Linked DNA regions of Homo sapiens. The protein of the gene in region 2 binds, or shares a complex with, the protein of the main gene of each other region. Each region holds a gene or a part of one and is shown on either strand. Other genes may lie near its edges. The genes, in order: SRRM2 and PLRG1.

Evidence for each region.
Region 1: PLRG1 (region 2) and SRRM2 share a complex: the UniProt entries of both Homo sapiens proteins name them as parts of the minor spliceosome.

Annotation. Positions count from the first base shown.
Region 1 is NC_000016.10:2,755,519-2,759,336, reverse strand, and holds part of SRRM2 (serine/arginine repetitive matrix protein 2), read right to left. Parts: intron 3,004-3,818; coding exon of another isoform or gene 2,973-3,003; coding exon 2,731-2,972; intron 1,866-2,730; coding exon 1,758-1,865; intron 1,557-1,757; coding exon 1,392-1,556; intron 868-1,391; coding exon 790-867; intron 353-789; coding exon 290-352; intron 198-289; coding exon 165-197; intron 1-164. UniProt on the Homo sapiens protein: Required for pre-mRNA splicing as component of the spliceosome. As a component of the minor spliceosome, involved in the splicing of U12-type introns in pre-mRNAs.
Region 2 is NC_000004.12:154,543,711-154,547,528, reverse strand, and holds part of PLRG1 (pleiotropic regulator 1), read left to right. Parts: intron 1-464; coding exon 465-518; intron 519-1,315; coding exon 1,316-1,406; intron 1,407-1,605; coding exon 1,606-1,693; intron 1,694-2,982; coding exon 2,983-3,084; intron 3,085-3,818. UniProt on the Homo sapiens protein: Involved in pre-mRNA splicing as component of the spliceosome. Component of the PRP19-CDC5L complex that forms an integral part of the spliceosome and is required for activating pre-mRNA splicing.

The DNA.
Region 1 (3,818 bases), on a different chromosome or scaffold from region 2:
AGGTTGTTAAAAGTAACTTCTTTAAAAAAGGAAATAAAACCAAAAGTGAAATGGAAAGAGGGAGTGTTGACACAAGGAAGATCAAGGAATTGAGCTTCACTCCAAGAAAAAAAAATCACCACTCCACATGCCACTGCGCCCCCTATGAGTTAAAGAGCTCTTACCTATGCTTACGTTTCTTGGACTCAGATTCTGACCTGTTGGAAAAAAGAGAAGAAAAAACATAAGAAACACCTCTGCCTGAATTCAGCAAACCTTCTCCAGTCATTCAAGTATTCCCACCTCATACCTGTGCTTCTTCTTCTTTGAGCTTTTCTTTCTCTCCCGTCGAGGAGAGCTGCTCTCTGACCTGCTAAAGATGGATTCAAAAGCAAGCTCATCCTGCTTGGCTTCTTTCCTGGCCCTCCCACTTACAATCTCTCTCCTAAAAAGGTTTCTAAAACACTTGAATGTCCTAATAGCACTAATGCCCCAGACCTAAGCCCAGGACTTATTTCTTCTTTCTCCAACAAGCACAAGTAACTCCTTAAGTCAACAAACCTCAAAATGAAAAAGAAAATTCCAGAATCCAAAATGCTGCTGGCCAATCTTAATTAGCAGAACTGCAAACTCAACACTTCCCCACTGAGAAACTCAGGTATTTCTTCTAGTTGAGGCCTCAATGGTAACTCCCTCCTCCCTGACAACTATCTCCTGCTTTGTGGAAGCCAGAACTGTCCACTTCCAGAGAGAAAGGTACACCACAGGATTGGTCCTCTGGCTATCAGAGTCACTTTCCAACTAACTTACCGTCCTCTATCTTTCTTCTTTTTCTTCTTCTTCTGCTTTGGGGTTGGTGAGCGAGAACTGCTAGACTCCCGAACAAGGCTAGGGAAAAATGAAAAGCAGCAGAGATGGGTGGTAGAACAAACATTCCTTTCTTTTCTTTAAAAGACAGAGTCTAAAAAAATAGTAATAAAAATAAAAAAATAAGAGTCTCGCTCTGTTGCCTCAGGTGGGGTGCAGTGGCAGCAACACAGCTCACACCGTAACCTCCAACTTGTGGGCTCAAAAGACCCTCCTGCCTCCACCTCTCCAAGCAGCCTGGACTACAGGCATGTGCCACCAACCAGCTTTTTTTCTTTTTGTAGAGATGGGGTCTCACTACATCGCCCAGGCTGGTCTCAAACTCCTGGCCTCAAGTGATCTCCTGCCTGAGCTTCCCAAAATGCTGGGATTACGCGCGTGACCCACTGTGACTAACCCTTGGACACATTTTTTTGGACACCTCAACTTCAGAAGAACAAAATCTGAAGAGTTTGGGAAGAAACCAGCCCGCAAAAAGACAAAAATAGAGCATGGAGCTTACAATCAAGAAAAGAAGCTGACAGTGGTTTCTTGGCCTTGTATACCTGTAAGGTTTGGGAGGCTCAGGAGCTGGTTGTTTAGCTTCTCGGGCACGACGCTGAGGATCAAAAGAGCTGCCATCTACGTAAGAATCACTGATGCCAAAGGCAGCACGGAGTCTTTCATTCTTCTTCTCATTTAATTCTGCCAACTGGTGAGTCTCCGTGACCCTAGAGAAAAGAAGGGCAAAAGTCTGAAGGAAATATAAAGGACAGAGCCATATTCAGAACACAAGTATAAGCAGGAGCCAAATAAGGCATGGGAAAGGCAGACGAAAGCAGGGAGGAAGTCCCACGTAAGGAAAAGGACAGCAGCAGCAGCCAGCAGCCAGAGTAGAGTCCAGAGTCATCGAGGGAGAGCGCAACACTCACGCTGGCCTCTGCCCTGGGGTCTCCTCCTTGCCCCCAGGGTTCACATCCTTCTCCAGCAACATGAGTCGAAAGGTCGCCACTTTTTCCTGAATTTGCTGTTCCTCGTACCTGAAGAACAAATCCCTTCAGGGTTAAGCTCGACAGGACACTTTCCCCAGTCCCAGGTTTCCATTTCCCTCATTCCCAAAAGGGGCCCCTCCCTCTCCATGCGCACACAGAACTTTTCGCTCACCCAAAAGTCCCTTCTGTCTGATCTTTTCCCATCATCTTTCTTCCCTCTACTTACTACTCCCTCTAGAACAGTGGATTTTAAATATGCTACACCTCAGGGACCAAAAGAAAAAAGTTAAGCAAGCAGGGTTCCAAGTGCTCCTCCCCAACTTCAACAAGAATGTGCCTTTTACTTCCTGGGATTCCAAAGTAAGGGATACTGTATAAAAGGATCACCATTGCTGAAGTTTAAAACCACTGCTCTAAAAGAGTTTTCTGCCTTAATGGGCTCCTTTTCCAAAATTTCCCTTCCCAGCCCATGATTCCCACTTCTTCACGTATTCTTCTAATTCCTCTTTTCCTGCCTATGCTACTTTCCAAGGCCTCAATCCTTACATCCATTTATCTTCTTCTTTTCTACCAATGACAACACCTATCAGCTTACCTAGCTCCTCTACCTGGTCTCTGCTTTCCCATCTCTTCCTTAAAACACATTTTTGTTCCTCAATGGCCCCTCCCTTCTCCCACGTGCCTCCATTTAGTACCTCAGGCTCCCATCTATGCCCCAGACACACAGCCTTCTCATTTCCCACTCTGCACTGTCCCTTAACTGTTTTCACTTCTCTAGAGCTCATCTGCCTCCTCCCCTACCACAACTCTTTGCCAGGCCTCTTTCAACCACCCTAAGCTCCCTATACATCCCACCTAACACCCCCAGCTCTGCACTCATTCAGTGCTTGACTCTCCCCCAGCTCTCCCTCACCCCTGCTCTTCCATCATCTCCTCCAGCTCGAGGCATCGCAGCTCGACGCGCCGCTTGCGCTCGTGGTCCAGGATGTCAGGATTAGGCCGCTTCACCAGGGCAGCCTCCAGGCGCCGCAGTTCCTCCTCTCCCTTGTAGTCAGGCCGCTCACCCCGGCGGCCCCGCACCAGGGACAGGTTGCGCTGGACGTAGCCGTTGGTGCCGCTGCCCCGGGGCGTCGGCAGCCCGATCCCGTTGTACATGGCCCCGTGCCCGGGGGGGGCACCACCGCTCCTGAGGGGGAGCGGGGAGACACGGGTCAGGCCCCTGGCCCCAAACTAACCACTTACCGCCCCACACCCAAGTCCCTGCTCTCCTTCATCCCTAATTCAACATTGATCTTCACACTAAGTCTTCGCTGTATAATGCTCCACCATCCTCCTGGTCTCCCAAGAAAACCACTTCTTTGCCCTTCCAAATTTCCTTTCTACCAAATCACAGCCCAGTTCTTACAGCCTTTCTCTCAATGCCCTTGCACAGAATTCTAAATAATCCCTCCCTACACCTAAATTTTCTTCTTTTTCCACCCTAGGCAAACAAGGATCTTGTTCCTCTAAAATCTCTCCACACTGTCCCTTTTTGTTCTCCTTTGGCCCCAAAATGCACAAGTGGTGTGTTTACCAACTACTCTAATTCCTAACCTCTGGTAACCAACCAAAGCCTCCTGGTCACAACAAACACCAGACACAGATCTGTGGCACCCAACGGCCTCTAGTCCATGTCCAAAGACTCTCCCAAAAACTTACCTAAGGATTTCAGACCACCCTATACGAATATGAAATAAACTACACAGCCCCTAGGTATCTGAACAGCAGACTAGTTGGTTCAGAATGTGCAGCCTCACACCCCAACTAAAGGCCAGCATGCACATCAGAAACACACATGAACCTTGGATAATCGTCATATACTTCACCTCCCAGGTAAGGGCCATTTCCTTGATTCCAAATATTTAAAGATCCTATCAACTATCCTGATATTTTATTCCTTCAATTTCCTTCCTCTCAATAGGATTTACAACAATTTGCAGTTCCTCCCTGTCTTGCCAGCTG
Region 2 (3,818 bases):
ATAGGAAATAAAAATGGTAGTATAATGATGGCAGAGATTCTTAGAGTGTGGAGAAGGTCACAGTAGAGATTAAAGGAAAAAATTGGAGAATATTCTTAACCTGTGAGGACACCATCTATCTTGTCTGTAATTCAGAAAGATGAAATTAAATACTGAAATCTTAATAAGTAAAGAGAATTCAAGATTCCACAGGAAACCATTTGCTTGGAAGAAATACCAGAGTGGATTGTCACTTGATAGGAGGGCTTCTTTGTATACCATTGCTATATAGCAAATGGTCAAGGACATGGTTTACAGAGATCAAAGCAAAAGTGATCAACTTCCCTTATTTCTGAGGCTTGACTTTAGTTGAGAAAATTTGATAGATCCAGTTGAAAACTTAATATTACTTGATACATTTAAAGAGATGATAACTTTTGTATAAGGTAAATTCACTACTGTTGATTTTTTTTGTGTTTTTTTAGGACAAGAAGTTGAATACTTTGTGGCAGGTACACATCCATACCCACCAGGACCTGGTTAGTGAGCTGTTATATATTGAAAATGTCTTAAAAATGTCACATATATTTTCACTAACGAGCCAATAATGAGATTCTTGTTGCCTATAAAATGCAAGATAAGCTCAGTAGCCAAGCATCCATGCATAGCTTTGTAGGTAATAATGAATACTCATATGCCTTCATTCAGCAAACATTCTTAAGTACGTATAATTTTTCAGGCAATGTGCTAGGAATTCAAAGACAGTAAAACTGTTGCAGGCCTAGTTATTTATTATCTGGTGGTTTAGGCAGACATGTAAATATCACTAAGCTTGTAAAAATGATGGAAATGTTAGAAGCAGTATCTGAGAAACATGTCCTCTGTCTGTATTAAGGCATTGGTCCACAGATGGAGTGGCCAGTGTAACAGGGTAGAGGACAAAAGGCTTAGTATGTAAAGAAAGTACAGGGAAATTGGGTGTTTCTAGTTTTAGTAAGTTACATCCACTCTTGGAAACATTCTGTTAGTATTTGAGGAACTGCTTAATACTGACTTGAAACTAATACCCAAATATAATGGAAATTAACTTTACTATTCTGGGCTGCTTTAATACCATGTGGGCTGTGATCAAATCAAATTTGAGTTACGTGTTATTAAGCAGTATTTATTGTAGAAATTAAAAACAAAGATGAGCAAAACTTAATCAAATTTGTATAATATCACTGCCTGGAGATAATAAACATTTGGTGTATGTTTTCCTTCATCATTTTATTTTAAGTGCATGTAAATGAATAATACACAGCTACTAAAAGAAGTTGATTTTTCATTTTAATAGGGGTTGCTTTGACAGCAGATACTAAGATCCAGAGAATGCCAAGTGAATCAGCTGCACAGTCCTTAGCGGTGGCATTACCTTTGCAGACCAAGTATGAAATATTATAATTACAAAGATCTTAAAAGCATATTTCACTGTTCACATTTTTTCTTTTTAAAATTTCTTTATAACTATTATATGACATTTTCCTTTATCAGGACTTTATAACAATTTAAAATAAAGGGTTAGTTTTGCAGAATACATGACTGGAGGCATTAATTACTTTGAAAATATTATTTCTTTTGCCCCAGGGCTGATGCAAATCGTACTGCCCCTAGTGGAAGTGAATACCGACATCCTGGGGCTTCTGACCGTCCACAGCCTACAGCGATGAATTCAGTAAGTTTTTCTGCATCAAATAGCAGGTTTCTAACTTTTGGAACATGTTGCCATATTTCCCTCTTCTTTGGAATTATTAAGATAAATAGCAGCCTGAGCTAGTCATTCATATTTCATAGCCCTAAAACTCAAGTTGGTAGTAAATTAACGTATTTTTTGGAATTTAATTCTGTTATTTGTCTACTTGTACATTGTGTGTAATATATATTTTGATAAAGATAATGTGATGTTGGTATTTATTGCCCACTATTAAAAATGCAAGGAGAGTTTTTCTGAAACTTGTGTTAGTATGTATTGAATATGAAAGTCTTTTTTTTTTTATTAAATTTTAAGTTGGTGTGTACAGTTATCTTGAGTGCTGTTAGTGTTGTACTATTCATGGGCTATACAACTAGTCTTATAAATGAGCATTTAGAAATAAGTTTATCTGTTTGTAAGTAAATGGCAACTGGTATTAGTATGGTAGAAATAGTTGTTGAATTTTCTATAGTTATTTTATTGATTTATCTGCAGCATAATAAAATATGCTGCCACTTGAAATAAGTGCTGGTTTTGCTTCTCAGCTCATTATGCAATTGATTTGACTTTATGAAGTGAATGAATGTGTAACTGCCACATCTCCTTTCCTCCTTTATTCCATTCAGAGCACGTCTTCTGTCCAGGCTCTCTACCCTCCTTATGAGGGTATAATTTAAGCTTCTTGAGGGCAGGAACTTTATGGGCTTATTTATGTTTTGGATGACTAGATGACTGCTAACAACAGATGGTATATCAGGCAGTATACCTGTTAAAATAGTATTTAAATATTGTATTAGAAGATAAATAGAAGGAACTGTCAGTCTTTGCTATATTAAACCAATAATGTTAAAATATGACAATGAAAGACAGTGGCACTAATACACTTAAAATGACTTTAATATTGGGAGCTTACATGGAGCATTTACTACTTATTAAATCTTTGTAGTAACCCTATGAAATAGGCACTATTCTTCCCATTTTACAGGTGAGCCACATAGAGGTTACATGATTGTTACCTAATGTCAAACAGCTAGTAATTGGCCAAGCTGGGTTTTGAACCCGTACACAGTGATGTGTGCTCTTAAGTCTAATGCTCTGCCTGTCTGTGATTTTATAATTGCTTTTTTAAGTTAACATACAGAAAATTGTATTTCTTCATTTATGGAAAAATTCTTTTGTAAGTTCCCTCTTTCCATTTCCATTTCTGAATTGATATCATGAAGCCTTAGGTATGATGTCTTTAATAATAATAATGTCTCTTCTATGTCTAGATTGTCATGGAGACTGGCAATACCAAGAACTCTGCACTGATGGCTAAAAAAGCCCCTACAATGCCAAAACCCCAGTGGCACCCACCGTGGAAACTCTACAGGGTGAGTGACTCTGCATTTATTTTATTATGTGAACCATGATTGCTTTGTAGTTGACAAGCACTGAAGAATAGAATAAGGAGGAAAAAGAGTGAATATGAAAAGCTGGTAGAGCGATCTGAGGTGGATTGAGAAGAGTCGTAGGGAGTATCTTAAAAGATCTCTTGGGAAGGTGACTTCCTTAAGCAAAAGTTATACTTTTATATAAAATAGTATGAAATGTCAAGATAAAGCTACTAAATATGGATGGCAGACTAAATAAATGTAGAAAAAGTGTTCAAAGTATTTAGTTTGAAGGTGAAGGGGAAAAACACCATATAAAGAAATTTATTTGGGCCTACCAGTTACTCTTTCAACTACAATAAATGAAAATGATTCAGAGTGTATCATCTAAAAGAAAATGGACATGCATGCTAACTTCAGCAGCACATACACTAAAATTGGAATGGTACGGAGAAGATGAGCATGGCCCTTCCACAAGGATAACACAGATTCGTGAAGTGTTCCATACTGTTTATTTTGCATTGCTTGCCTATACCAAAATATCTCATGTACTCCATAAATACATTTCTACTGTGTACCCACAAAAATTAAAAACAGAAAATTTTAAAAAAGAAAATGTACATAGTAGGAAATGTACAGCTACACATAATTTAATATGTATCTTAAAAATTTCATTTTTCAAATGATTGTACAGTAAGAGCCTTTTTGTTTGACATACAGCTCTAATGAATTGT